Linked DNA regions of Homo sapiens. The protein of the gene in region 2 purifies or fractionates together with the protein of the main gene of each other region. This does not show direct contact. Each region holds a gene or a part of one and is shown on either strand. Other genes may lie near its edges.

The links.
Region 1: the proteins of LMX1B (region 2) and PBX3 purify together in Homo sapiens (affinity purification with mass spectrometry; 3 studies listed by BioGRID and IntAct, with this or other methods). This does not show direct contact.
Region 3: the proteins of LMX1B (region 2) and PARS2 purify together in Homo sapiens (affinity purification with mass spectrometry; 3 studies listed by BioGRID and IntAct, with this or other methods). This does not show direct contact.
Region 4: the proteins of LMX1B (region 2) and PBX1 purify together in Homo sapiens (affinity purification with mass spectrometry; 3 studies listed by BioGRID and IntAct, with this or other methods). This does not show direct contact.

Annotation. Positions count from the first base shown.
Region 1 is NC_000009.12:125,960,364-125,967,392, reverse strand, and holds the end of PBX3 (pre-B-cell leukemia transcription factor 3), read right to left. Parts: intron 6,710-7,029; coding exon 6,544-6,709; intron 5,292-6,543; coding exon 5,179-5,291; intron 4,382-5,178; coding exon 4,292-4,381; exon of another isoform or gene 4,218-4,291; intron 1,563-4,217; coding exon 1,470-1,562; 3' UTR 16-1,469; downstream 1-15. UniProt on the Homo sapiens protein: Transcriptional activator that binds the sequence 5'-ATCAATCAA-3'.
Region 2 is NC_000009.12:126,686,899-126,693,927, reverse strand, and holds part of LMX1B (LIM homeobox transcription factor 1-beta), read right to left. Parts: intron 3,093-7,029; coding exon 2,860-3,092; intron 787-2,859; coding exon 605-786; intron 405-604; coding exon 327-404; intron 183-326; coding exon 116-182; coding exon of another isoform or gene 83-115; intron 1-82. UniProt on the Homo sapiens protein: Transcription factor involved in the regulation of podocyte-expressed genes. Essential for the specification of dorsal limb fate at both the zeugopodal and autopodal levels.
Region 3 is NC_000001.11:54,761,524-54,769,518, forward strand, and holds the start of PARS2 (probable proline--tRNA ligase, mitochondrial precursor), read right to left. Parts: upstream 3,001-7,995; 5' UTR 2,938-3,000; intron 1-2,937. UniProt on the Homo sapiens protein: Mitochondrial aminoacyl-tRNA synthetase that catalyzes the specific attachment of the proline amino acid (aa) to the homologous transfer RNA (tRNA), further participating in protein synthesis.
Region 4 is NC_000001.11:164,786,162-164,793,190, forward strand, and holds part of PBX1 (pre-B-cell leukemia transcription factor 1), read left to right. Parts: intron 1-6,332; coding exon 6,333-6,577; intron 6,578-7,029. UniProt on the Homo sapiens protein: Transcription factor which binds the DNA sequence 5'-TGATTGAT-3' as part of a heterodimer with HOX proteins such as HOXA1, HOXA5, HOXB7 and HOXB8. Binds to the DNA sequence 5'-TGATTGAC-3' in complex with a nuclear factor which is not a class I HOX protein.

The DNA.
Region 1 (7,029 bases), 730 kb from region 2:
GAAACTGCATCAAAATTTAATCATGAAAGCAAAAAGTTTATTCATGTTTGAAACTACATATAACTACCACGAGGAAGACTTTTTCAATCCAGGGTGTAATCCAGTTAGAAAGGAACACGAAACGTTTTTAATACATTAGAATCACCGCCACAAATTATTTTCATGACTCAATCAGTTTCAGAATCGCATACAATACAAAAAGAGAGAAAGGAGAGGGGGCCCCATTACACAGGGTGAAATATACAGTACTGAATACTGAAATCTGAATGCATCACAATTAGTCGCTGCTTTTTTTTTTTTTTTTGCATGGATTAGTAATAAGATGAAGAACATTCAAAATGTTTCTCAGTATTTACAACAGTTTTACCGATCCTGTGTTGAATTAAGACCCAATGTTTCCACACTCGGTTTTTTAAAAGTTGCAAGTGCAACCCTGATTTTTCTTTTAAAAGATTACAATGTACATTACATTTTATGAAGGGAAACAAAGAGTTAATTACAAGATGCAAAAAGATAAGAAAGAGACAAACTACAGCGTGAGTATTGTTCAGAGGTAGTAAGTGAGCACTCTAAGCTACAGAACATGTTGAAATTCTATTGGTTTGTATGAGTTCGCATGAGGTAATAAAGCTGTGTTTTGATTGGTGGGATGTATAAATACTCTTTTGCTACACTATATACAACACTCCAGAGAGCAGGGCCTTTTGCAGATGCCCAGAGGACGTAGCAAACCTTGACAAGTCTGTGCAGCACCCAGTGCACACCGTAAAACCCCAGACGGATCAATCTCGTTTTCACCTCTATCAGCAGCAAGTATCTTCGTCTCTCAGAACAATCTGGATCCATAATTTTATTACCGAGCAGACTCTGGGCACTGGTGCTTTCAGAGAGAGAAACGATGCTACCAGTCTCTGATCTAATTATAACATAAGAGATCTGAACACAAACGTGACGAGGAAGATTCTTAAACACAACCATCATTAACAGGGATAGGCAAACAGCTCTTTATTCCAACTCCATTAGTGATATGAAAGAAAGACAATCCAAGTCAGTAATGGAAATATGCAAGAAGTTCAATTTAGGTGAGGTGAATTTTTGCATCTGCTTTAACGGTTGAGGTTTAGTGTATATTGTACTTTTTACCCTTAAGGCCAAGTAATTGGCAACTGTGAAACCATTAATGTAAAATATTGATAATAAATTATGATAAAATAGCTACAGGACTGTCAACAATGTTAAATCTTGGCCTAATTGGATAAAGTGCTTTATTTTTTTTAACATTGTGTGTTTTTAAGTATAAATACAAATGATTATGATTCCTTAAAAAACAGATTTACCAAGTTCTCGAATAAGACAAGGTTTTACAGTAAAGCTGTAGATGGTGGGCTACAAAAACGCTTTCCTTTTCCTCCTATTGCTCTGAATGCACTTATCAAGGCATGTAGCTCAGGGAAAAGTGTGGCCAGAGATTAGTTAGAGGTATCCGAGTGCACACTTCCTGGGCCTTCTGTAGGAGAAGTCACAGAAGATGGAGTTGTTGCGTCCTGCCAGCCTCCATTAGCCTGAAAGGAGAAACACAGTTCAACGGGTGCACGTCTACATATTAATTCTACTCCCCAATTTAAAACACCCGGATGACAACATGAGAGCAGAGATGCATTAGCAAAATGTATTTTCTAAACCCACTGTGGCAGGAGTTGGCAGCATGTGTTAAAGTGGGATTAAATGCATGTAAAACAAATCCATCCCATCAAGTAAAGTCTTGGCAATAAATCAACACGCCGAAGAAGGGCTTCAGCGAGGCCCATGCTGGCATCGAGCTCGGCCTTTGATCTGCTGGTAAAACTAAAGTGACTCAAAAAGAAATCTCTTCAGAAGGGAGCAGTGGAGAAGCTCAATGCAATGCCTCAGCGAAACCCAGGGCTCCATGAAGTCTAAACTTCACCCCGGCTTAATCATCATTTCCATAGAGAAGCAGTTGCCCACCCTTTTTCCATACACGCCTGACAGCCAGCTACTGTAACCCTTGGAAAGTGAAGGCCAGAATTTCCCTCCAAATAGGATCTTCCAGAATGAAAATGCATGAGCCGCAGAGCAGCACACACTGTTAAAATCTGTATTCCAATTATCTGTGGCTGAGGCTCCTATTTGGGATGTTGCTCCCACCTTCCACATGCTGCTGGCCCTTCCTGCCTCAGACCTGCAGCAGCAATAACCGTACTCAGAAACAAATTTGCCTTATGTCTTGGCCTATAGTGGCAATTGCTGAAATCAATGTCTGATCAGATTTCTGCTGTGGCAGACAGCTTGTCGCTACATATTTTTATGTCAGTCAGGAAGAGGGAGGTGCCAGCCTCGTGAGTTGGGGAACACTGAGTGGAAGTGATGGGGCAGGCCTTTCTGGAGAGGAGGTGAGGGTGAGCAGGCTCCCCGTGCCTGCAGCACCAACCACCCTCTGCCGCCATGCTGCCCCCAGACCCGGACCTCCTACACCAATGTCAGGGTGGGTCATAAGGTGCCTCCTGCCTCCCTCACATCTATTTGCAACTTCCTCTGCAAGTCCATCCAAAATGCCCTCTTTCAGGCCTGGGCTGCCAGGCTGCTGAGAACTCTTGTCTAGATTCCCTGCCCAGCCTAGATACAGCTCCTAGATGAGCATGTGGCAGCCATTGTTTCTTCTTCTGTGATCACAGTTCCTGGAGAACTCCCTGTCTTCTAATTCACTGCAGAGTTGGCATGCAAAGCACCTTTTCTACCTCTATGACCTAAGAACCCCACAGAGATGACCAGACCCTAAGGGAAGAGGATTTTCCAGGCTTGAGGCATATCAAATTCAGGTTAGGAAAAACAAAAGGAAACAGTATTTAAAAAAAAAAAAAAGCTATGGTGGTATTGTTTTAAAGCCTCTGTTTTGCCAGGTTGGCTAATGACATGCCCATGTGTGTTCGGTGGACTCTCAGAAATCCTCTTCTCTAAAAGGTAAGCTGTTTCCCCCCTCAGGTATGAAAATCTACTTAGGAAAAGAAAAACTCTCACACAGATACAAGTCTAAAGATATTCCATCTGAAGTAAACATCATTCCTCTTTTATCCAAATTTATAAACAACAAATGTACAATATTTTTACCCAGCATGGCAGCTGGAGGAGAGGTTGTCAGCAAGCATTCTTTTTTTTCAAAATAAATTAATCCTTACTCTGGTGGTTTGAGATTATGCACTGTATTATACAACAGCGCCTTATCAAGCCTCATCAGTGAAGATGGAATTCATGTCTGTAAAATGCTGCAGGCAATCACAGTTTCATATTTTATCATGTTGATAAGGATATCGCACATTCTCTGAAGCATTTCAAAACACTTAAATGAAAAAGGAGAAATGCAACTAAAAGGCTTTTTATATGGTTTGTTGTGGGTTATTATGAGTTATTTATAAGCCCAAAAAGAAAGATTTGACATTTCAAATGTAAAAGATTTGAGTATTTAATGGTCCTTTTTTCCCTTTACAATTGAACATCCTCAATCACTTTTTAAATCATTAATATTTACTCTCGTAGCAAGCCAAGGCCCTAAAAAGGAAGAATTTTGCCCATTTTCTTCCTGAGTCTACTACCGTGAGCTGGGCAGTTAATTTCCTTCCTAAGTCTAGAACCCCAGACTCCATCCACCACACCCCGCAGCACCACCACGATGACCTGCTCCCCTGCCCCCTTCCCCCTTTTCCAGAGCTGTGTGTTTTGCCATTTTCCATCCATGTCAGTGGAGGGAAAGGTAAAGTTGTAGTGAAGTAGTTACAAAAGTTAAAATTATTTCCTCCATAATTAAAATTGTCAAATATGTTGTGCATCCCACATTGACAATACAGCAAGATGCTTTTAATAACACAATTATTTGTTTAGCTTGGTTTGCTGGTCTGCCTGGGATTCTCCAAACTTACCACCTTCACCTGAGTTCTGTTTGGGAATTTTTCCCGCTGCCTGGTTCTAAGATAAATGACCTGTTTTCTACCGTCTCCCTGGAGCACAGCACTGATGGTAGGAAATGGCGTCTTAATGGGCTGATGCTTAAGTCCCTGCTGATGACAGGACACCAGCCATTTCTGGGCATCTATGAGGACTTCTAAGGGTATCTAGACGGCATCAAGCATTTAGGTTCTTAAAATAAAAGTGCAGCAAAGACGCTGCCTTCCCTACCTGCCAAGAAGATGAGAAGCCAGGTCAAATGGCTATTAATTTCTTTATTAGTCACTGTTTACCTGACACTGTTCTCCTACAGCTGACTCCCCAGAGTACTCACATTTAAATTATGTGGACTGTACAGTGAATTTCCTCCAAGGCCATCACTGTAGCCTCCCGTCTGATTGATAACATGACGGAGGGTATCCACCTAGAAGTGAGACAAAACAAAATTCATCATCCCAAATCTATTAAAACGTCATCACTTACAAAAGGAAATAATTTGAATTATGTGTGCCACAAGGGTTTAACATCTTCAATGAAAGACAAATTTATCAATCAAATGTGACTGGCAGAATTTCAACCATTCTTTGCATATTTAAACTCACAAATCTTTGTTTTTCATGCCAGCCAAACAATAACATCTTCATGGCAATGCAACTTTCCATCTACAGCAACCAAATGGATGTGGCTGTGGGTGAAAGCCTACTTAGAATTGTGTATATGGAATTATCTCAACTCTCTTTCTCTCACTTTCTCTATGTCTCATACACATACATCTAGATGTATAAAAACTATATGAATAGTTCTGTTCTCAAATAAGAGGACAAGAAAAGAGTAGAAATTATAGAGTTATAATTTAAGAACTCAGGTTTTTGTACTCTGACTTGAGAAATGAAACAGCAACATGTTCTTAAACCATATACACACTGGCACACTCAATTTTTCTGTTCTATTTTGTGACAAAAGTAAGATGCACCCAACCCCTCTCCATGAGCTCAAGCCAGAGCCGAATGCATTCACAAAGTTTATCAGGTTTGAATCATCACAAGTCACTGTTCACTTGACTTCTCATTAAATTAAATGGTGGGGCAGATGGGTCCTGGTTGGAAGCACCCAGCACAGGTTCTGCATGGATGTGTAGACCACTTCCATGGGGTCAGAGGAAGGAGTTTTGAGCCCAAACCCTACCCTGCTAGAAAGGCCCCACTGGGGCATTTCTCCTACCTGTGATTGCACATTGGCTCCGACTTGGGACCCTTGGTAAGAATCCCCATTCAGACTCTGCATGTTCATGAACATGTCCCCAGAATTTGGGAGGTTAAAAGAACCAGAAGAACCTGGAAAGGAAAGAGTTAAGTAGCTGAATAACAGAGAGCTACACACATAATCCTCAAAGACCTAGAGGCAGGGAGATGAGAAAAAGTACAGAAGGGAAAGGCTGTGCACAACATAAAGCATTTCCAGATCTAAGAGGATGGAGAGTAACTCCAGAGAGTTGGGTCCTGTGAGTCACTCCACATCTAGGAGAAGTCCCATCAGTGGGGAAGCCCAAACTTAAAAAACAAAAGCAAAAACAAAGAGACAAATCAAAATAAATTAAAAAGAAAAAATAAACCAAAACACCCAGCAGCTGGCCTGGACCCTTCCCCTTGTTTCCACTCATCTCCAGGATTTAGTCATTACACGAGCTTGTCAACATGGCTGTCACAGTGGACAGCCACCCAGAGAAGAGACTTTTCCAGGAGCTCTTTCTTCGCTATGCATATACCTCCCTCTCCTTTCATCTGTTTTTATGTGCCATTAAAAAGAACTGGGGGGTGAGGAGACAAGACAAAACAAACAAAAACCCCCCTACTTTCTGAACTTCTAAAGATATAGCTAAGAGACCTTCTCAGAAACGCCCCTGGAATTGCTACTGAAGTCCATCTGTTTGGACTAGCTGCACATCTTTCATTGTTATTCAAGTTCCCTGAAATTTTAAAGTATTTCTAACCCCCTCACAAACGTCACATAAAATGCAGCCAAAATGTACCGGACGAGGATCCAAGAATCTTGCATGCATGTATTAAGCACCATAACCCTCACAGCTAGCCACCTGCTGAGCATGCCGTCAGCCCCGCTCAGACAGTGCTGCTGAAAGGCAGAGAAAGGACAGCGGTGCTGGGCAGAAAGCACTGCTGCACTTCCCTCCAGCATTCCAGCTTCCTCACACACAGCAACTGCTGCATTTCCCACTTCTGCTATTTCACTCTCCACAGACCACTACTGACCCTAAAGTGGTATCTGGAAAGAAATAGCTAAAATAGTCATGAGCGATAGCACTCTGCCTAATTACTGAACTGAAAGCCACTACTAATTGTAAAACTTCCATAATCTACTAGTGAGTGGCATTCACTGTGAAGAGTGGGTTTACAGGCTCTGACCTTCCACTCATTCACCCATCTCAAGAACAAGCCTGCATTTGAACATAAATCTTCCTTTTTAAGTCCACTCTGTCCTCAGTATGGCTCTTGTTTCCTGGCCTGTGGGACAGGGCATTGTGGCATAAGGCTGCCTGGGCCAGTTGGGGAGCGAGCCCCCAGTACGCACCGGAATTTGGTGTGGTGGGCGAATTGGTCTGGTTGTTCTGCACAGCTGCTGCTACTGCGTGTGCAGCTGTCACGGCCGTCTTTGCAGCATAGAGGTTGGCTTCTTCCTGAAACTTGCCAATGTTCTTCTTGTACCTGATTCGTTTGTTGCCAAACCAATTGGATACCTACAAATTGCAGGGACATGGAGGTGAAGGGGAAGAGAGGAAGAAGTAATCAAATTCCAATAATACCTGCTGGACACCAAGGCAATACCTTGGGAGACACACAATTCCTAGCCTGCAACCTCACATCCTATGGATCATGCATAATGGTTTTGGGGGTTATTTTCTCTTTTGGCAAAACTCTCACATTCTTTTGGAATAACGCTGCTTTCTTAGAGTTGGCCACAGTAATACCAAAACGGCAGGGAGCGCTGCTCATAAAAGATATCCAACTGCTATATACCGATTAGTATATAAATAGTCAGGCCCCCAAAATCAGGCTG
Region 2 (7,029 bases):
CCTGGCCCAGGCTCACCCAGCCCCAGCCTCTGCCCCAGCTCACCCTGGCCTAGGCCCACCCCTGGCCCCGGCCCCAGCTCACCCTGGCCCAGGCCCTGCCCCGGCCCCGGCTCACCCTGGCCCAGCCGCTGGGAGTTCTGCTGCTCCTGCTGCTGCTGGTGCCGCCGCGCCAGCTTCTTCATCTGCAGGGAGAGCGCAGTTCAGGCCGGTGCTGCCCCTCGCCCCCAGGCACAGCCAGCCCCACGCCCCCTGGACCGTAGTCTTCTGGCTGCCCCCTCTAGTCCCACCCTACCCGGGGCCAGTGGGGATGGGGGGTGGCCTCTTACCTTTGCTCTTTGGTTCTGAAACCAGACCTGGACCACGCGCACACTGAGGCCCGTCTCAGCTGCCAGTGTCTCTCGGACCTGGCTCAGAGAGAGGGGAACAGGTCAGGCCCTCCAGGGGCAGCAACGGGGAGATGGTGGGTTTAGGGGTATGATGGGATGTGCGGAGAGATGGAGGATGGAGGGATGTCCCTACCCCCAGCAGGAGCAGGGGGTGGTCTCCAGAAAGGCAGTGGGTGTGCGGGCATCAGCCTGAGCCCCGCCCCCCGGCCGCCCCTCACCTTTCGGCAAGGCTTCGACGAGACCTCGAAGGAGGCCTTGAAGGCTCTTCGCTGCTGCGTGGTGAGGATGGTCCGGGGTCGCTTGGGCCTCCGCGGGTCCTTCCCGTCATCCCCGCTGCCCTTGCTCTGACTGCCCTGCCCCTTGGCCGGCTTCATGTCCCCATCTTCATCCTCGCTCTTCACTGTGGGGGACACAACCCGGCCTGTGATGAAGGGGCGGGGGCAGCCCAGGCCTCAGCCTTGTCCCCTTCGGCAACCTGCTGCCCGATGGGAGCCTGTCCCCTCTGTTGACACCTGCCGTGGCTCCCCAGTGGCCCAGGATAAGATCTCCTTCCCTCCCGTGGCCCACAGGCCCTACCTCATCTGGGCCCTGGTCTCCTGCCTGCTGTACCCTGCGAGTCCCTTCCCCGGCACACACGCCTCACTCCCTCATCCTGGGCCGCAGGGCACACCTGCACAGGAACTCACACAGGTGCGCCTCGGACAACCACAGCACAGGCATGCACACACGTACATGTGGCTGCACACACTTTCAGGAAGGCAGGCCCACTCGGGGAACAGGCAGACAGGTGCACGCACGGTTGTGCACATGGCTGTGTGGACATACACGAAAGTGTGCAAGCAAAGACACACACCACAGATATTCACACAAGAGTGCTTCTGACCACAGCGTATGCACGCACACACTCGTAAGATGCACACTCACCTGCTGCCACATACACGTGGGCTCACAAAGGCCCTCACGCGTGCAACTCACAGGCGTATTCACACACATGGGCCCATGCTCACGGGCAGGAACGTACAGGCATGCATGCATCTGGACAGACACACACAGCGTGCGGAAGCATGTGCATTCTCCCAGTGCTACAGCCACACCCACCATGCACACATGGCACTTCCCCGCCCCAGGTTTGGGTCTCAGAAATGCCAGCAGCCCCAGATGGATGGCCAAGCCTCCCCAGCCACCACTGGGCCTCCCGCTGCCCCCCAGGCTGGTCTCCTTTCTTCAATCCTGTTCTTGGAGTATGAGGCGGGTGATCTCCTCCCACTGAGACCCCCTCTGCTGGGGCTGGCCAGCCTCTGCTCTTCCTCAGGAGTCCAGGCAGCTGGAAGCCATGGAGCTGGCTGCAGCAGTGCCCTGCCCAGGGATGGGTAGGGACAGATGGTGGTGGGCTCACTGCCTCCACGCAGGCCCTGGCCATGGAAAACCCTTCCCATGTGGCAGATCCTGTTGCCGGAGGGCTCCAGGTTACCCATGGGGCCTGGCAGACCGGGACACCTCCTCTCCATGCCTCCTGCTCCAGTCCTTCCCCACTGTTCCCAGGAAGAACAAGGACCAAAGCCACCTCCTGGGCTTTCCCTCCTTAAGGCTCACTCCTGGCTGGGCTTGCCCTGTCTGCCAGGAGGCCTTCAAATTGGCCTCGTCCTTTTGGGGGCTAGAGCAGAGGAGGGAGGGTCCTTCACCCTGGGAAATGGGGTCTTTCCCTCCAGCACAGAGGGCCCAGCCCCCTCCCTTCGGCTGGGAAACAGAGGCTGGCTCGAGGCTGTTTGCTTCTCACTGCTGAAGGCTCCAGGGGGCTGAGAAGGGGAAGGCACATCATCTCCCTGCCTCTCAGGCATCCCCAGCCTGTGGACTGGGTGCTGGTGAAGACCCCTGTGGAGCTGGGCTGCGGGTTGGTGGGGGGCCATCAAGGCAGAGAGGGTAAGGGGGGTGGGCCAGAGAACAAGAGGTGTGTGTGTGCACACAAGCACAATCCACAGTACATGTGAGCATGTGGACAAACATATATGTGCAGCCATGTGGACCGGTGTTTAGTGCACAAGTGTGCTGTGTCATGTGTGTATGTGTATGTATGCTTAAGTGTGTACACTTGTGTGTGTGGACCTGGGTGTGGCTTTTGAATTCCCGGGTATGTGAACACATATCTCCACATACATGTACATGTATCCATACTCAGGGTAGGGGTATTCCTGCATGCATTTTATGTGCTTGTGTGCACACATGTGATCACACATATGTTTATATGTATGGATGCGTAGGTCTCAGGGGTAGTGTGCCTGGGGGGATGCATGTTCGTATCATGTGCACACAGGTGGACACGTCAGTGCGCGTGTGCATCTGGATATGCATGTACCATCTGTGTGCAGCTCAGGTCCTGGAAGCAGGAGGTGGCTTCTCCAGCCGGGACTCCCCTCCAGGACACCCCAGCAACCCCCGTCCCTGAGGCCTGCCCCCAGCTCAGGCCAGGCCTCACCGGAGTCGGACTCGTCGGGGCTCACGGAGCTGAGCAGGTCCTTCTCCTTCTCGTAGTCACCCTTGCACAGCAGCTGGCCCTCCTTGAGCACGAATTCGTCGCCCTTGCGTAGCTGCCGTTCACACACGCAGCAGCAGAAGCAGCCCAGGTGGTACACGCACTCCAGCGCCCGCATCACGAACTCGGTGGGGGCGATCTTCTCCATGCAGCCGCTGCACTTGGCCGCGAAGAGCCTGCGGATGCACAAAGCGGGCGTGTTGGCGGTGCTCAGAAGTCCCTCCCAGAGGCCACTCCTGCCGAGGGCCTCTCCCTCTTGCCACCCTGACCCTCAGGCCCAGGTGGGAGGGAGAGGCCCTCCTTGGGCACCAGGTCAGACAGCAGAAGGGCCCTGCAGCCCTATTCTTCTGCCTACAGGCCCCCAGTGGCCCTGGGGTGGGTGCTGGCATCCTGCCTAGAGTCACCTGTCCCGGGCGTGGCAGCTCAGGGCCCTTCCAGCTCAGAGACACGGTGGCCACAAGAGGGCAGTGTGGAGGGTCCACTCAAACTTTCCTTGGGGGCCAGGTCAGCCCCTGGCTGGAAAGGATCCTTTCTACCTCAGCTCCCTGGTCTGCCTCTCCTCTGATCCTCCCTCACCAACACATCCAAGCAATTCCCAGCCCTGCCCAACCCACTGCCCAGCCTGGGCCCCTCCTCTCCTGCCCGAGCAACTGCCTGGTCCCCTCTCTGGGCTCCTGGCCCCTTCAATCCTTCAAACCCCAGCCCACACAGGAACCGTCACACACACAGGAGCCAGGGGGATCTTTCTAAAATACAAATCGGATCAAGCTGCTTCCCTGCTCCAGACTCTTCCATGGCTCCCTAGTGCCCTTAGGAGACCATCCGAGCTCCTGAGGCTGGCACTCAAGGCCCTTCATGATCCCGCCTCTTCCCTTTCTACCCTCTGCTTCCCCAGGCTGCAGCCCCAAAGAACAGCCTGCAGTTTCTCCAGAGCACTATCATGGCAGCCATCTTTCGACCCATCTTTCTCTGTCCTTTGGCTTGGCTAACACCTTCCCATCCCTCCGTCTCAGCTTACGCATCTCCATCACGAACAGATATTCACTGAGCACGTATAGAGTGCCAGCCCTGCTCTAAGCATCTTATATGCAGAGACGCATTTAATCCTTGCAACAACCCTGCAAGAAAAGAATGAACATTAACCCCATTTTAGAGATGAGGAAATTGAGGTGCTAAGAGGCAGAGTTGCTTGCTCAGGGTCGCATGGGTAGTAAATGCTGGAGGCAACTCCCAGGCTGGGCCTAATCCAGCTTCCACATGACAACGTGATTCCATCTCCCATCTCCCATCATCTCTGCAGACAAACGAGGGCCGGGAGAGGTGGTCTCCGGGCCCTGGTCAGCACTAGCAGGAGGGCTGGGCAGCACGGCCCCTCCTCTGCTGTGTCTGCTGACCGCTCCTCCCGACACTCCCCCACCCTGTCACGTGTCCTGCTCTGTGGGAACTCAGCTCAACAACACTTTGATGGAAAAATTTATGAAGAATCAAATTATTGCTGCTGGGAGGGAATTAAAACCATTTTTCATTCCCGGCGTCCCCGGGCCATGTCTGCGGGCGCCACCTTGGGAGCGCTGTGCACATCCCATCCCTCTTTATGGCCCACCATCACGGGCACAGATTACAGCTGCAATTCTCTACTAATCGGTTCTGGAACAGAAATGGCCATAAATGGGAGGCACTCGCCTGCCTCCCTTCCTGGAGCTGCCGTCAGAACCGCCCACGGCGAGCTGGTGGGGCGAAGTGGGCAGGGCCACTTGGAGCTCTGCATGCTGCCTGGGCACTGGCCAGAGCACTCAGCAGGGGGCACCCCCAGCAACCCCTGCCACCCACCTCTATTCTACCCAGCAGGCTCCTACTCATCCTGCAATGCCCAACTCCAATGCCACCTCCTCTGGGAAGCCTTCTCTGATGCCCCAGTCTGGGGGAGGTAGCCTCCTCTATGCTCCCCTCAGCGTCCCCCACCTCAGTTTACTCCTGTAAAATGGAGATGTCAAGCCCTTCCTGAAGGCTGTTGTCAGGATTCGAGGATGCTGAGCATGTAACTCAGTACACGGGTATCACAGCAGAATGACAATGCATGTCCCTGTTGGTGCCCAACTCTACCACCTCTACCAGGGTTCCATGAGACAGGACCTGGCCCCATCTGATCCTCAAGGGGGCCTCCGTGAGTGTTTACAGAGTAGGTGAGTAAAGGCCTGGGGTGAGCTGAGGCTGAGGCCAGGCTCTGCTCTGGGCATGCTGGACCCCACCAGCCTGCAGGGCATGGCTCTGCAAGGGGAATGTGGGCTGGATTTTGGCTCTAATTTGGCCCTCTGGCTGAATCCCCTTGTTCAGGGCACAACCTACCCAACTGTCAGTGACAGCTTTAGGCAGAGGCCCTAGGAATCTGGCTGGCTGTCCAGCTCTCCCGAGGGGCTGAGGAAGGAGCCTGGGTTTGTAGAACCCGGTGCTCTGACATGGAGGGTGGTCCTCCCCCAACCCCTACTGCCCCTCTGTCCCCTCCCCACACTCCACCTGACCTAGTGGCCACACTAAGGTCTGCAGCCTGACCTCTGCGGCCTCTGAGTGGACAGACACTGGCCGTGTCGCTGCTAGCGTGGGAGCGCCACGGTCCCAGGGTCCCAGGCCAGGGTCAGCACACCTTGGGTGACTCCCGGAGAGGAAACCTTCTTAGGCTGGGGAAGGGGCAGCAGGGCGGGTGACCTGCATTTGCAGTCAAAGCCACAGTGCTGGCTGTGCTCAGAACAGCCGCGCTAATGCCTTGGCAGCAGGGGGTCGATTGCTACTTTCTCCAAACTCATCAACACAATCTATTATTAATACTTCTCCAAAGGCTCAGTGCCGCCATTACAGAGGCAGCGCCAGCCACTCAGGGTATCATCTGTTATCTAGATTGCAAAAACTCAGGAAATAAAACAAACTGCGCGCACTTTATAAACAGAATGCGCCATCCGTTTGGTCTCCAAGCATCTCTCCACCCAATAAAACATCGGGGGGGATGCATGAAATACTCACTCCCAATTATGGGGCTGCCTTTGTCTACTGTGCTGGGGTGAGAGCGACTAATGGCGTGTATGGGAGGGGTTGGGGATACCAGCGGGGTTCCCTCTTCTCTGTGAGCCCCCATTCCCCCTCTCTTCGTGCCTCCCACCACGGAGGACTATGGAGCCAGCCACTGAGAAGAAGGCCCAGCCACAGACAGGTGGCATTGGAATCACATGGACTTGAGTTCCATGCCTTGTCCCACCACTTGCTAGCTGGTGACCGGGCAAGTAATTTTTCTTCTCGAGCCTCAGCTCACTTATCTATACAATGGGCTGGACAACACTGCCTGCATCTCAGCATGAAGATGTAGCGAGTTGTCAGTGTAAAGCAGCAGGTGTGGCGGGCACAACCTCCATAACTTCCTTGCTGTGCAGCTTTAGGCAAGGCATTTGACCTCTCTGAACCTCAAATTCTTCATCTATAAAATGGGAATGATCAGGCCAGCGCGGTGGCTCACGCCTGTGATCCCAGCACTTTGGGAGGCTGAGGCGGGCGGATCACTTAAGGTTAGGAGTTCAAAACCAGCCTGGCCAACATGGTGAAACCCCGTCTCTACTAAAAATACAAAAAATTAGCCGGGTATGGTGGCACACACCTGTAATCCTAGCTACTCCGGAGGTTGAGGCAAGAGAATCACTTGAACCTGGGAGGTGGAGATTGTGGTGAGCCAAGACCGCACCACTGCACTCCAGCCTGGGCGACAGAGAGAGACTCCGTCTCAAAAAATATATAAAAAATAAAAAAAAAAAGGGAATGATCATCCCCGACCATGGGGTTGTTGGCAGGGGCTGGATGCATTTAAAGCCCTCGGCACCATGCTGGCATGAAGAAGGTACTCCAGGTACCCCACATTTCTTTTGTTCGGTGTGTGCCCAAAACGCCTTTGTTGCTCACCCTTGCTAGAGTCTCCATGATTCCTGGGGGCAGCCTCCCTGACGCTGACTGGGTTTACAGGGCCCCACTGTGCCTCCTTCTCACCACCACCCCGGGTTCCGGCCAGCCCTTCTAGCTTGTTTGGCCTGATCTGGACAGAGCACTCCTGGCTCCGTTATCAGTCTCAGAACATTA
Region 3 (7,995 bases), on a different chromosome or scaffold from region 2:
TATATATTTGGGAGAGGCGTTGAAGAATGGAATTACTGAATCAAAGGCTATAAATTCTTTTGAGACTTTTTATTTGTATTGCCAAATTTAGTGAGTACCTCTACTTTTCAGCACAGTCCATGCAACAAAGCTCCCGGCAGTATGCTGGGTATGGGTTGCTGATTCCCCTCAGCTCTAGGGAGCTGGGATCTCCCAGCTGGTTACCTCTAGCAGCCTCAGGTCCTCCAGCTTGTCCCCTCCAACCTCAAGCAGCCTCATTCATTTCCCCTGTGCACTGTACAAATGTTTAAAGGTGGTCAGGCACTGCCACAGAGCCCTAGTGTGGTGTTGTAGGAACGTACGGGCCATGGAGGCAAGGCACATGTGGATTCACCCCTGGCTCTATAACTTCCTTGTGATCCAACCTTACTTAGGGCAGTGGCTCCAGCCAGAAACTCATCCTTGATTCCTCCTAAAGCAAATGAGTCTGTCTCAAGGTTTCCCTTAAGTCCACCCCCTCCTTTCTGGCCCTTACTGCCTCAACATTAGGTTAGCCCCTCAATACCACTTGCTACATTACAGTTACCCAGTGGTTCTGAAATCTAATTGAGCATCAGAATCGCTGGAGGGCTTGTTTTTTTTTTTTTTTTTTTAGAGACAGAGTTCACTCTATCACCCAGGCTGGAGTGCAGTGGTGCAATGTCAGATCACTGCAACCTCCGTACCCCCAGCCTCAAGAGATTCTCTTGCCTCAGCCTCCTGAGTAGCTGGAATTACAGGCATGTGCCACCATGCCCAACTATTTTTCATATTTTTAGTACAGACAGAGTTTCACCATGTTGGCCAGGCTGGTCTCAAACTCCTTGACCTCAAGTGATCAGCCCGCCACGGCCTCCCAAAGTGCTGGGATTACAGGCGTGAGCCACCATGCCCGGTTGGGTTTGTTAAAACAGTGATTGCAGAGGCCCATCTCCAGAGCTTCTCATTTAGTAAGTTTGGGGTGTGGGCAGAGAACCTGTATTTCTAACAAGTTCCCAGGTGACACAGATGCTGCTGGTCCAGGGACCCCACTGGGAGAACCACTGCAGGGGTCTAGCTGTGTACCACCAATGACTAATGTCTTAAACTCCATGAAGACGACAGCTATGTCTATTTTATTCCAAGTTTTATCTGCAGCATTCAGCACAGTGCCTGGACACAGTGGACACTCAATAACATGTTCCTTTTTTTCTTTCTTAAAAAATAGAGATGGAGTCTTGCTATGTTGCCCAGGCTGGTCTTGAACTCCTGGCCTCATGCGATCCACCTGCCTCAGCTTCCCAAATTGCTGGGATTATAGGTGTGAGCCACTGTGCCCAGGCTCAATACATGTTCTATCAATGAATGAATGGAGTAATTCTTGAACCCTGTCAGTCCAGTCTCCGTATTAGTCTCCAGCTAAAAAGATAGCTGACCCAATCACTCCCCTGTTTACAATCCATTAACGGCTGGCTCTCATAATTTTCTCAGAATGGCACCAAAGCTCTTCACATTTTGATCCCAACACACCTCTTCCAGCTTCTTATCCTAGCATTCCCCAAGTTGCTCATTATTCTTGAAACAGACTGACCTCCCCCCAACCCCCAGCAATTCCAACTGGAATTCAAGGTTCACTTACTCCAAGAAACTTTCTCCAACCCCTCTAAACAGAGAAAGTCACCTCCTCTGTGCTCCACTGCACACACCTCTTTTTAGTATACTGTATTAGAATCATCTCCAAAAATATTTTTGAGGAACTATTGTGTGCCAGGCATTGGAAGCGAATGGTGTTTCACATACAATTTTTTTTCTTTCTGGGGGTGTGTACGGGGGCCAGGAGGGGAGGTCAGTGTCGATGTTTAACATTCTATTCCTTGATGAAATTACAAGTTTATGAAGTTTTATACATCTTTAAATTTCAGAGTCTCGCATAATGCCTACTATTTAGGCTATTATTATCTGTTGATCAAATATGTTAATAAATTAAGAGCAAAGCAAACAGGTGCAATGATATAATTATCTGGATAATTTAAACGAGAGCTTTAAACTCTTCTCCTCCACGTTTAGCATGTCTGTCCTCAGACCCCTCAGCTTATACAAACAGGAGAATAAGTAGAATTATCTCAGTTTTTCAGGAGCAATACAGTAACTAACGTATGCAACACTTCAGGCTCTGGCAAACAGCCTCTGAGACATTCAGTCGATTTTTTTGAGTACCTACTCTGTCGGGACACTGTCAGCCCTTCCAGCCCAGGCCTTTTTAAAGATTCTTTGACTCACCATTGCCCCCCAATCTAATCAGAAAAGTTGTACCTAAAGCGTTTACAACCGTACCTGATACATAATATTAAGTCTCACAAAGTGCTATTATTATTATTATTATGCCCAACTCAGAAAAGGGAGGCTCTGAAATATAAAGTCACTTGTGTCAAGCCACACAGCAAATAAGCGCAGGGTCGGGCCTGGAAGGCAAGGTCCCCGCCTCCAAATCCTACAGTTTCCATCACGAACTGTGCTACATTAAACAGCAATGGAACCCTAGGCCTAGTTCTAAGAACAAGCTCGGCCTTCACTCGCTCGGTGACCCTGGACCACTCACTTCGCCCCGGACCTCCGTTTTCTCCAACATAAAACGGGAAGGCTGGCTCAGGCAGCAGGTGGTCCCAGGGCCTTTCCAGAGCTGGCACTTCGAGAACTGTGTGACTCTCACGACGACCGAGGGAGAGACCAGGAAGTGCTGCCCTCATTTTACAACGGAGGACACGGAGACCAGGAGTATCGAAAAGTTTATGGGATTCTCGCCCGCCCCAACTCAAGGACGGGATGCAAGTGGGAAAACGGACACCAGGGTCCTAGGTCTCCGCGCCCACACCGCGTGCTCGCTTCATTTCGCTGCCCGCGCCCGTCCCTCAGGTCTGGGAGTCACCCACGTTCACCTACCGCAATCCCAGCCCACGCCTCCCGCAAGACCACCGCCGTGCCGGGCCAGCGCGCTTGCGCCTCGAGCAAGCCCGCTCCTAAGCCCCGCCTCCTGCCCTTTTCGCCAATTGCAAAGCCGCGCTCACGGAGGCGGGGCCGAGGGCAGGGGCGCTCTGGCCCCGCCCCACGCTAGGCGCGCGTGAGAGGTTTTCCGGAAGTGTAGCCAAAGAGCGAGTACCCGGCTTTCCCCAAGATCGTTGATTGGCCAGGGCAGCCTTGAGTAAATCACCGTTCCGGAAGTACTTTCTAGGAACTTGGGAGGTATAACTCTATGATGACTTGAGGGTGCTCTTCCTGCCCCTGCCAGGCCCCGCCCACTCCCCCAATAGGAGAACCACTGGCGACAGTGTAACCATGACGACACACTGGGCAGTGTAGTTTCTAATCTATCCTATGATTTTTACGGGCTTTCCATTTAAATAGTATAAAATTGTGAAACAGTTTGAGAAAGACGCCTTTATTACAGTGCCCAAGACAGTCTTTAAGACACAGATTCAAACTTCCATTCACAAAATATTTTTTGAGCTGCTACCACGTAGAAGCCACTGCTGTAGACACTGGGGACAGTGAAGTGAACCAAACAGACAAAATTAACTGCGTTCAGTGTAGCTTGTGTTCTAGAGAGGACACAGTCAATAAACCAATAGAGCGAAATTTAAGCAGGGCAGGGAATGGGAGCAAAGAACTCAGTAACCAAGATAAACAGTATTTTAATACAATTGTTTTTTTAAAAAAACAAAATGCAAAAAATCCATGGCAAACAAAATATCAAAATTTAAAAGAATCTGTCAGTCAGATGGTGATAAGGGCTATAAAGAAAAAATTAGAGAAGGAGAATGGAGTGGGGGAGTTAAGTGTTTGCAATTTTTTTCTTTGTTTTTTTGAGACGGAGTTTTGCTCTTGTCGCCCAGGCTGGAGTACAATGGCGCGTTCTCGGCTCACTGCAACCTCCTTCTCCCGGGTTTAAGCAATTCTTCTGCCTCAACCTCCCGAGTAGCTGGGATTACAGGTGCCCACCACGTCCGACTACTTTTTGTATTTTTAGTAGAGATGGGGTTTCACCATATTGGCTAGGCTAGTCTTGAACTCCTGACCTCAGGTGGTGATACACCCACCTCGGCCTCCCAAACTGTTGGGATTATAGGTGTGAGCCACCGCGCCCAGCCAAGTGTTTGCAATTTAAAATAGGAGGATCAGGAAAAACCTCATCAAGTAGGTGGCGTTTTTAGCAAAGACCAGAAGGGGGTGAGAGACAGAGCCTTGCAGGGGAAGAAATTTCCAGACACAGGAAACAAGAAATGCAAATGTCCTGAAGTGGGAACTGCATGTTATATAACTCAACCTGATAACAACTACAGTTATTGAATGCCTAAAACATACCAGACCCAATGCAAGACACTGGTGATTCCGATACTGGCCCCAAGAAGCTCTCAGTACGACAGGATCTTCCAGGAACAACTCCGTGTGATCAGTGGTGTGATAGGGGCTGAGCAAACCCCTGCGGGAGCGTGGGAAAAGAAGGCTTCACTGAGGAGGTTACCTTTGAGCTGGACCTGAAGGATGAATGGGGTCTACCCAGACAAGAATGGCAGTGGGAGTGGAGTGCCAATGTTCAGGCAGAGGGACCAGGACATTCAAAGGCACAGCTCAGGAAATGATGAGCCAGTGTGAGGGAAGCATGGGGTGTGGTGTGGTTTACATCTTTATTTCTCCCAGCTCCTCACACAGAGCTTGGCACACAGGCCAGAGCAGTGATTCTCAACCTTGACTGCATTAGAGTCATTATATGCACCCACTGCCACCCTCTGTCCCAAGATGCTGGTTGTGCAGACATTATTATTTTATAGTTCCCCAGGAAATTCTAATGTGCACCGGGGTTAGATCTGCAGCCCTAGAGGAAAGGCACTGGACAACCTAGTGGTGGAGGCGGCAGGGGTAGATGCCATGTTATTATCCTGGTCTTACAGTTGAAGAAAACACAGCTTGGGTGGAGCACACGACTGCATTTGCCTACCAGCTAGGAGGCCAGGCAGGGCTGGGGTGGACCTGAGCTCTTTTGTCTCTAAGAGCCTTGCTCAGCCTTTATAGCCCAGAGCTGTGGTAGAGGCTTTCCCCAAGGAGTGCAGTCCCAGAGGTTTCGCTGGACTGATATTTCTCACTCCTCCTCTTTGGGGGCAGGGGGCAAATAAACTTCAGAATTTCTTGGATCTACATATCCAAAGTAGCCTTTAATTTCTCCCTGTTCCTGTGCACGTTGTTACATCCCTTCCGATCCTGGAAAAGCCAGGCAGCTGTCCTCAGCACCCTGAGGTGTTAATTATTTCTCAATTAGCAGTCCCTAGGCTGTAGAGCATAGTGGTGTGGAGAGGCCTAATGACTTGCCGTGTTTATACACCCCCACATCTTCAGAGCACTTTACCAATGGTAACTAATTAATGCTCACAACCCCCTTGGGAGGCAGGCCAAGAATGCTGCATTTTACTGTGAGATTGCAGGAGGCTCTGTAGCTCCAGGCTGCAGAGTCCTATCAAGACAGTCACAGAGTAGATTTGCTCCCCATTGAGAGAGTCCAGGGTGGTGGAGATCCCAAGGTCGTGGAAACCCAGAATCTAGCCCTGTTGCTGCTAGTGACTTCCTGTGCGATATTTCAGTCAATCAATTGATCAGAATTTATTGAATGACTTAGTTTACAGAGCTTATTCATGGTTAAAGCCCCATGACGCACCACTCCACCCCCTGCAATAAAAACAAAAACAAAAAAACCCACACAGAAAAAAATCTATTCATTCCCTCATTTATTAATTGGTTATCACAAAGAAATAAAGCAAGAAGAGGACTCCACACCTGCCTTGGTGCCCCACAGCTCTGGGGACACACCACGCACTTAGCAATTTCCCTTAGCCAGAATAGGATCTCCTTGAGGGCAAGAAAAGGTTTTGCTTTTTTCTCTATCCTCATCCCTGAGCAGAGGGCCTGGCCCGGTGTTGGGGCTTATCACAGGGTTTTGCTTTTTGGTTTATGTGTTGTTTTAATATAGCAATCAATAAATGAATGGATGGTTTGTCTTCCCTCAGATCATGGGCTCCTCTGAGGACACACTGAATCGTCCTTGCATCCAGAGCCCCTTGCCTGGCATCAGGAGGGGCTCTGAATGTGTGTTGAATAAGCAAATGAAGGCAGAGTTAATGATGAACTCCCCAACCTCATGAGCTCACGGCCTCCTGGAGAGGCTGCCTTTGAAAGCGGTGACACAGTGCCCTGTGGTAAGAAGCTGTGAGGAGGGAAGTGCAAGGTGCCGAGCGAACACACTGCAGATTGGGGGGTTGGGAAAGGACGTGACATTCAGCCATGAGGTGGGATCAGGGAGGGCTTCTCAGAGGAGGGGTACTTGGAATTGACCTTAAGGAATACATAGGAGCTTCCCAAGCCAAAAATGGGATGGAAAGACATTCTGGTCAGAGAGGCAATAAATTGCTTCTGATAAGGAAGATGGCTAGAGATAGTTCTGGCTGGAGCATAGAGCACCCCCAGGTGTCATGGACACACAACTGGACAGCCATCAGAAGCCAGGTGCAGCAGGGTCTGCTGGACAAATCTCTGAGTTTATCTCCATCTTTGTGGCCATTGAAACCTTTCTGATGAGGAACGATACTCCTCTCTGCCCCTCTCTTCCCCCCAACACACACAAACTCCTGCTCTGAGCACAATCCCTGGACACTTTGCGTCCCACTCTGTAGCATGGACTTGTCGTAACTTGAAAGTATAATTGGCACCACAGGGAGGCAGCCTTCTCCTCTGCTGCATGCCCCTAGGCAGACACTGCTCATGTGAGAAGCAGGCCTGTGGGCAAAAGAGGGTTCTACACCAGGAGAGGACTGGTCCACTGTGTTTCTTTGTCTGAAGTGAGAGCTCAGATTGGAGGAGGAGGATGGCGAGAGAGGCCGGAAAGGAGACTCCTATAATAGCCCAGACTAGGGCAGTGGGTGGGAGAGGAAGAGACAGATTCCAGAGACATCTGTCCAGAGACAGTCCACCTGGTGGACTCCTGAGCCCACCCCTGCACCCTTAGCCCAGCTCAGCCCAGACAGGCTGGACTGTGAGGGTGGCTTTGCAGTCAGGAAGGCCTTGACTAGGAATCTGCCCAGGCTCTTCTCAGCTACATGACCTTGGTGAGTTACTTATACATTTCTTTATCCATAAGACAGAAATCATAATAGCATCCCATGGGGCTGTTATGAAGGGACACTGAGCAATGTCATCGAAAGCTTCCAGCCCATCCCTCAACACTTATTTACTCACTTTCTCTCCCATGTTGACTCTGGGGACCTTACTGCTCCCCTCATCCATCGTAAGGAGAGAACCCTCATCCTACTGCTGCTGCCTCTGGTTCTGAAAGACTCCCCACTCTCGCCACTGTGTAGGATGCAAATCTTTGGTCTTTGAGAGCCCCTTCTCCTTGGGCCCAGAGCACACCACTTGTTCATTTTTTCAGTGCCTAAGCCTAGCAGAGTGGAGGCCAGCAGGGATCAGGAAGGTGGGACTCTGTTTTTATGAGGAGTCCTCAGAATTAGAGTGTGGCTACTACTATCATCACCATCCACATCATCAGTAACATTTATGGAGCCCTTGCCATGTGCCAGGGACAATATTAACTACTTTACACCCATGTCTTTTTCTTTCTTTCTTTCTTTCTTTTTTAAGACACAGTCTTGCTCTGTCGCTTAGGATGGAGTGCAGTGGCTTGAGCTCGGCTCAGTGCAACCTCTGCCTCCCAGGTTCAAGCAATTCTCATGCCTCAGCCTCCTGAGTAGCTGGGACTACAGGTGCACACCAGCACGCCCAGCTATTTTTTTTTTTTTTTTTTGTATTTTAGTAGAGACGGGGTTTCACATGTTGTCTAGGCTGGTCCAGAACTCCTGAGCTCGGGCAATCTGCCACCTTGGCCTCCCAAAGTGTTGGGATTACAGGCGTGAGCCACCACGCCTGGCCCATTTTACCCCTATGTCTGATTAAATCCTT
Region 4 (7,029 bases), on a different chromosome or scaffold from region 2:
GATCTCACCAGCCCGTATCTTCCCTCCTTGATTCTTTATTATATTGCTCTTAAGAAATATTGGAACAGACATTTAGTGTCAGGGGCCCTGTGAGGTTGTGTGGGGAACCGCCTTTCAGGAGTTCACAGTCTTGCTGGCAAGATGGTAGGTGTGCCCTGGCATGTCCTGAGATGCCCCATGGCTGTGGTCTAGGCAGTACGTGCCCTGGTGCCTCAGAGGCTTAGAGATCATTTTCGGCTCTTCTCGTCAGGGCAGATTTCATGAAGGATTTTGAGCTGAGATTTAAAATGAAATAGGACTGTAGTAAGTGGATTTCTGTGGCTGAGAAAGAAGAGGGCATTCTATCACCCAATACAGTGGCTCTAACCATGATGGTGGAAAGAGGTAATGGGAAAGGACCAGATTTAGAGAAATTAAAAGAAATTAGGAAATCAATAGAAAAAACTTCCTTCTTTCCATTACTATCTGATTGTTTTCTTCTTGGCCAGAGTATCGGTGTGCCTTGGGCATCAGAAGAGACTGTGTGTGTGTGTGTGTGTGTGTGTGTGTGTGTGTGTGTGCGCGCGCACACACACACACGCACAGAATAGATATCACATCCATGTAGCTGCCTGTTGTGAAAAGGATTCAGAACTCCAATATTGTAGAGGACTGAAGTGTCTGAGAGTTAAAGATCTAGAGTTCAGTGTCGGCTGTGTCTCATTTGCTTTGATTTTGGGGAAATGTGCTTTGCCTTTATAATCTTCGGTTATCTGCTATGTAAGTTTGGAACATTACTTCATGTTTTGTAAGGTGATGTAATTCAGTGCGTGCAAGTACTTTATGAACAAATAAAAGGTATAACTCTGATGCTCTCAGGAAGCAAGCATTTTGCTCTTTTCCTAAAACTGCATAGCTGACTTGGGAATGAGGCGGGGAGAGCTGGTCTCTCTTTTCTAACTCTTCTGGTAGGATGTGGTAAAGACTGAGCTCCTGGGCAATAGAACACTCTGCATGGAGGTTTGTGCCTACAAATCAAACAAAGAGATCAGCCAGAGAGAGCCTGCCTTTTTGCACACACCGTTGGGAGGCTACCTTGTGCCTTTCCCCAGACCACCTGCCTCTGCTTTCTGTCTTGTTCTTTATCTGTTTCTCTCTCTCAGCTCAGCTTTGGGCCCCTGGACTGTTGTCCAAATCTGAAGACCACCCTCCCTGTAGATCTGCCCTCCTCCCCTCCCAACCTGCCCCCACCTGTGGAAGTTTGAATCTGAGCAGAGGCATTCCCCCAGCATGAACCTGGACACTTGACTGTCCGCCCGCCTGGAGAACCAGTCCTTGGTGAAGAAAGAGTGCCCTCTAGTGGGCATTGGCTGGAGCTGCTCCGGACCCACGTCACTCAGCCAAGGACAAAACAACCCGCCACACGGCCCTCCCGCCAAGGATGATCTTGACTATGCCTTTGGGTTTGGTTTGTTTTTCTCCTTGTGTGAAGAAAAAGAAAGAAAGAACAGCAGGAGACAAGTGGTGAGAGCAGCTCCCACAATGCTGTGACAGTCCCTTTATCTTAGGACTTTTACCAAAGAATTAACCCCAGGGCAAGCGATGGCAGCAAGGTACATGTGACATCAGAAGCTTTTTAAAGGACTTGTGACAATTCCTGTATAAATCACCTACCTGTCTCAACTGGTCTCTTCCATAATTGGGTGGATTTGTGGGAAGGAAACTCTTTCTGTAAGAATGATTACCAAATGGGTTAAATATCTTCATGGGCGCAACCCCTCTGCAGATTGCATATCCACTGCAATCAATGACATTTTTCGGGTAGTGGACGCGTCCGGGCCTGCCTGGCCATTAAAACCCTATATGCATGAGGACAAACAAGGGATTTGGCCCTTTAAAACCTATTTCAGAAAAAAGCTGCTGGGGTGGGGAGGGAAGAGATGAGGGGGAGGGAGAGAGCGCAGGGCACCCATCAGGGAAGCAGGAACCTGATCATATGTGATGGTTGCTGGATTAGGTAACAGCTCCGCTGGTTGAAATTGGATCTTGGAGGATGAGTGTTAACATCTCTGGTGTCCTGGCGAAAGGTTCATTTGAGTCTTGCATGGTGCTGCAGAGATAAAAAGGAGCTTTTAAATAATCATTTTGTCTCCTACTCACCAGAGTACTGGCTTCCAGCAATAAATAGGTAGCATCAGTTCTGCTTAGACATATCACCCTTTTCATTTATTTATTTAATGTTGGTGTTTTTTTTTTTTTTTAACCGCCGAGCTGAACAGTTTGTGTATCAGTGAATCCCAACACCCATTCTTAATAGTGGTATATTTGGATTCTCCTTGCGCTGGCTACAAATATGAGCATGCAAGGTTGTTTATTGGTCCATCCCTGTCCCCTCCAAGCATTACAGACACAGCCCAAATCCACCAGAACTGAATTTTCTATGCAAAATAGTGCAAGATGGTTTTCTTTTAAGGTTTTCCCTTGTTCATATTGTTCCTTAAAAAAATTTTTTTTGGGTTTTTGCACAATCATTTTCTATTTTCATAATTTGAGTATAATTTAAAGGGTGTAATTTGGAAATGACTGTTGTTGGTTTTTCTACCCGCCGCCCTCCCCCCCCCGCCCTTTTCTTTTCATTCTTTTGTTTTCTTCAGAACTCTGATTGGGGACCTATTTATGTGTCTTGAACTCTAAGTGTAAATGCAAGCAATATTTATGCCGTGGTGCATTGTATCTATCTTATCAATTTCTAATTGGCCACATTTAGAAACTAAGTCTATTAACTCATAGTGAATTCAAATTTCTTTTTAGGGAGTATTTATTTGCAGGATTCACAAAATGATGTGAAAGCTAAGCGAAATACTAACACTTTCTTGCCCCAGCCAACCCACCACCACTGCGCCCAATTAAATGTATCCTTCATACCTGAAAGAAAAGAGGCAGTATGCTTTATGCTTTAAGCTTTGCAACCCTCCTGAAACTTCCATGGCGGGTAGGGGCTTGCAGTTTATCCTTTCAGTGTTCTTTGCCAGCCTTGACAATTTCCTTTCTTATTTTATTTAAAACCAGTTAGATTTGAAGGCCAAGAAATGTATTAATTAGGAGGTGTGTAGAGTTTGTGTGAAATTGTTTGTGCTTCCCATTGACTATTTTAAAAAGATGGTGTTTTAAAAAGATGGAGCAGAGGCATGAAACTGAGAGGGGTTGGAAAGAGGAAATATTCTCAGAGGTTAATATTAGGTATATGGGAAATATTCATAGTGATGTGTGCGTGATCACCTGTGTAGCTCCTGGAGGAGCGAGGATCAGAACTGTCTCTCTGCCTTGCCTCTCCCTTCTTTCATACCTCACTGAGTTTGGCTGGAGGAATAAGCTGATGGAATGAATGAGGCCGCTTGGGGTACCCATGTGATTGGAGGAGGTAGGATACTTGATGTCAGCTCAAGTAGGCAGTGCTTAACACTAGCCCTGGCAAGGCAAGTCCTGACCATTAATAGGACATCATTCTTTTTTGCTTTGCTGTTGTTGTTGAGACCAGAGGTTGTCCTAAAATCTCTCAGTGTTGGGCCGCATGCAGGACCAGTTGGGTGTGGAGTAGCCAGGTGGACCCACTTGAAGGCATTAACACCCAGCTGAAGGGTTACCAGCCTCAGCTTCGTGGGGAATGTTCCTGCCAGCCGTGGGGGCTTACGGCCTCTTCTGAAGGAAGTATATTGGACATGAGATTCAGTGAGCGAATGAGAGAGTAGAATTTTGCCCCAGCACAATGTTTTGAATAATCGAGCTAAAGTGAAACAACTATATTTATTAATGGCTCAGAGGCGATTCTTTTTTTTTTCTAATTTGTAAATGACCCATAAATTTCTTTGTGGATAAGGCTATTAAAATTTATCATATAAAGAGAAACAACCACATAGAGGTGAAGGAGAGGCTGCTGGGCGCTGCTGCCAGATGTTTGGATGCCCCGAGATTCTTTTCGGTGCCTTTAGGGCCTGGTATTCAGGGCATGGTTACAGCAGCCATCTACTTTCTTAAGGAAACCTTTGTTAGTGGCAATTTGTTCTTCAGAGTGCTTCGGAGATTTAAGTAAATAAATTTAAGAAACAATAACGTGACTAAATCCTTATTGTGCAAAGATCAGCCAAAGGAGCAGTTTCCCATTCAGTCTCCTGAGCCTACAAAGGAAGGATTTTATTGGAAAAAAAAGTCCACAAAATAAACCTCAATGACCTCCTAACCTTTTGCCGTCACCACTATGGCAATTTTGTTTTTGTGTAGCAGAATATTACATATTCAGGTTTGAAGAGAGAAGATCATGACGTGGTAGTGTTGTGGTTTGCGTCTAGGGTGCAGGCTTCCTTCTTTTCTCCTTCCCAGCTACCTGCTCTCCCTCCTCCCTCCCTCCTTTCCTTCCTCTCATCCTTTTTTACTTCACCACGGAGCCCAAGCTTCTGCCCTGCACCTTTTGTCCTCTTTGCTCTTTATGGCCACCACTGATCCACATGGCTCGCCATTCCATTTGATGGTCTCGTGTTTTGTGAGAGCCATACTGTAGTTTTCCTTTTGGCCTAGGAATTGGGATTTCCTTCTGAACAACGTTCAGGGTTGGTTCTTTTGCTGCCTGTTGGCAGCCAGGAGCATGTGGGCACAGCCAGCAGTTATGCTGGTATTATATGTGATGACGCTCAAACATCTAGACATACCCTCATTGAGCTCATCTTCACCTTCCCTGTTACAACCCGAAGCCCTGCTTTGCCAGGGCTGGGAGACACCTGGAACTGGCACTGTCCCCCTGGGGCTCACCAGATGCACTCTGCCATGAAAACAGCTCTTGACTGTGCTCTGGTGTGTGGATATCCACCAGGGACTTAGACCCTGCCACCTCCATCCCCAAAATGTCAACCAACACCGGACCCCTCTCCTCTGCCTTTAATCACTTCCCTCTTTCCCACCCTACCCACACATTCTTTTCAATTTCTTAAAAATTGAAAACACTTTTTATGTTCCCTCTTAACAAAGACTTGGCTGCTGACAACTGAACTGGATTTAGATGAGTGATTTATTTTATGGGAGGTTGTCTGAAGGGGTAGTAAAAAAGACTGTCTCGCTCTTCTGCTGATTTACTAAATCACTGGATCTCCTTCAGTCCAAATCACCACCAAGGGTCCTGGTGTTTTCATAAAGATCAGCCATCTCATTGATCTGAGACGCCATCCTACCAGAGCACTGGCTTCCCTGAAACCCTGGAGACAGCTTGTTAAAAGGACCTCACCCTTGTTTCCAACAGGACAGAGTCCTTATCACTCGGAACACATAGATCTCAATGTTTGGAGCTAAACGACCCTGCTCAAGGGCCAATTTGTCTTCTTGCTATGTTAGACCTCACTCTCTGCTAGTCCACAGGAAAGGTCTGAAGATTTCGTTCCACATGTACTGGATTTGTGTACTTCAGGTGATTTTGGAAATGAAAAATTTAGACTGATCAAGCATTGCAAAGAAAGGCAATGAGTGCACAACCACAGACTTATGGAAATTTAAAAGGAGAAATAAAGAGGGAAATGCTTTTCCTTAAATTGAAATTAGGTAGTATGGGGATGAAAGTAAAAAATATATTTTGTTATGATTACATTTTTCTAGTTGAAATTTTTTATTGTGGTAAAATATATATAAGATAGAATTTACCTTTTTGGGGGGTGGGGGTGTGGAGTCTTGCTCTGTTGCCCAGGCTGGAGTGCAATGAGTGGCGTGATCTCAGCTCACTGCAGCCTCCGCCTCCTGGGTTCAAGGGATTCCCCTGCCTCAGCCTCCCGAGTAGCTGGGACTACAGGCACGCACCACCACGCCTGGCTAATTTTTTGTATTTTAGTAGAGACGGGGTTTCACCATGTTTGCCAGGATGGTCTCGATCTCCTGACCTCGTGATCAACCCCCCACTCAGCCTCCCAAAGTGCCGAATTTACCATTTTAAACTATTTTTAAGTGTACAGTTGAGTATTATTTTGCAGCCATCTCAAAAACTCAGCTTCCCAAAGTGAAATTCTGCGCTCATTAAACAATAGCTCCCCACTCCTCCCCACAACTCATGGTACCCATTATTCTACTTTCTGCCTCTTATAAATTTGATTATTCGAGATTCCACATACAAGTGGAGTGTAATTTTGGAACAAAGCAAGTCCCTCCTTCATTTTCTCACCCTCTCAGTTTCTCTCTTTTTCCAGCCTTTCTTCTATTCCTCAAATGGCATCTTGCAAGTAACTTGGCAGCTTATGTAGCCAAAGAACACAAATGTGTTGTGTTTTTTATTTTCTTTCTTGGGTTACTATTAACGCTCCCTTCCCTGTCTTTTTCTGTAGTTTTGAGTATCCGAGGAGCCCAGGAGGAGGAACCCACAGACCCCCAGCTGATGCGGCTGGACAACATGCTGTTAGCGGAAGGCGTGGCGGGGCCTGAGAAGGGCGGAGGGTCGGCGGCAGCGGCGGCAGCGGCGGCGGCTTCTGGAGGGGCAGGTTCAGACAACTCAGTGGAGCATTCAGATTACAGAGCCAAACTCTCACAGATCAGACAAATCTACCATACGGAGCTGGAGAAATACGAGCAGGTAACCAGAACCACCTGGGGCTCGGCACCCAGGCCCTTTAGGAAAGGGTGGAGGAAGCACAACCCCGGGGCTTGCAGAGAGGAGCGGCTCACCTTTCCCAGGTGCTGGCATCCCTGTGCCCGGCATCCCCTGCCCAGCCACAGAGCCCTGGCCAAACTTGAGTCTGCCAAGTCCTGGTCTCAACTGTTAAAAACCTAGGCATTCAATGGAGGTAAAGGCATTAAAAAATGTGTGACGCTGTAAATGATTTCAAGGAAACATAAATCGTGCATAGAAGGAACACTCCATACCTGGACTCCAGAACGTGTGTCTGTGATGTGCAGGCCTGGCTCTCATCCGGGCGCTATAGGTGATCAGCAGAGTCACCAGCTAACCTGCAAGAAGGTGGGAGGTTTTCTCTGGCCCTTGTTTTTCCTTATTTATCAGGAGGCCTATACTTTTTCTGGGTGCTC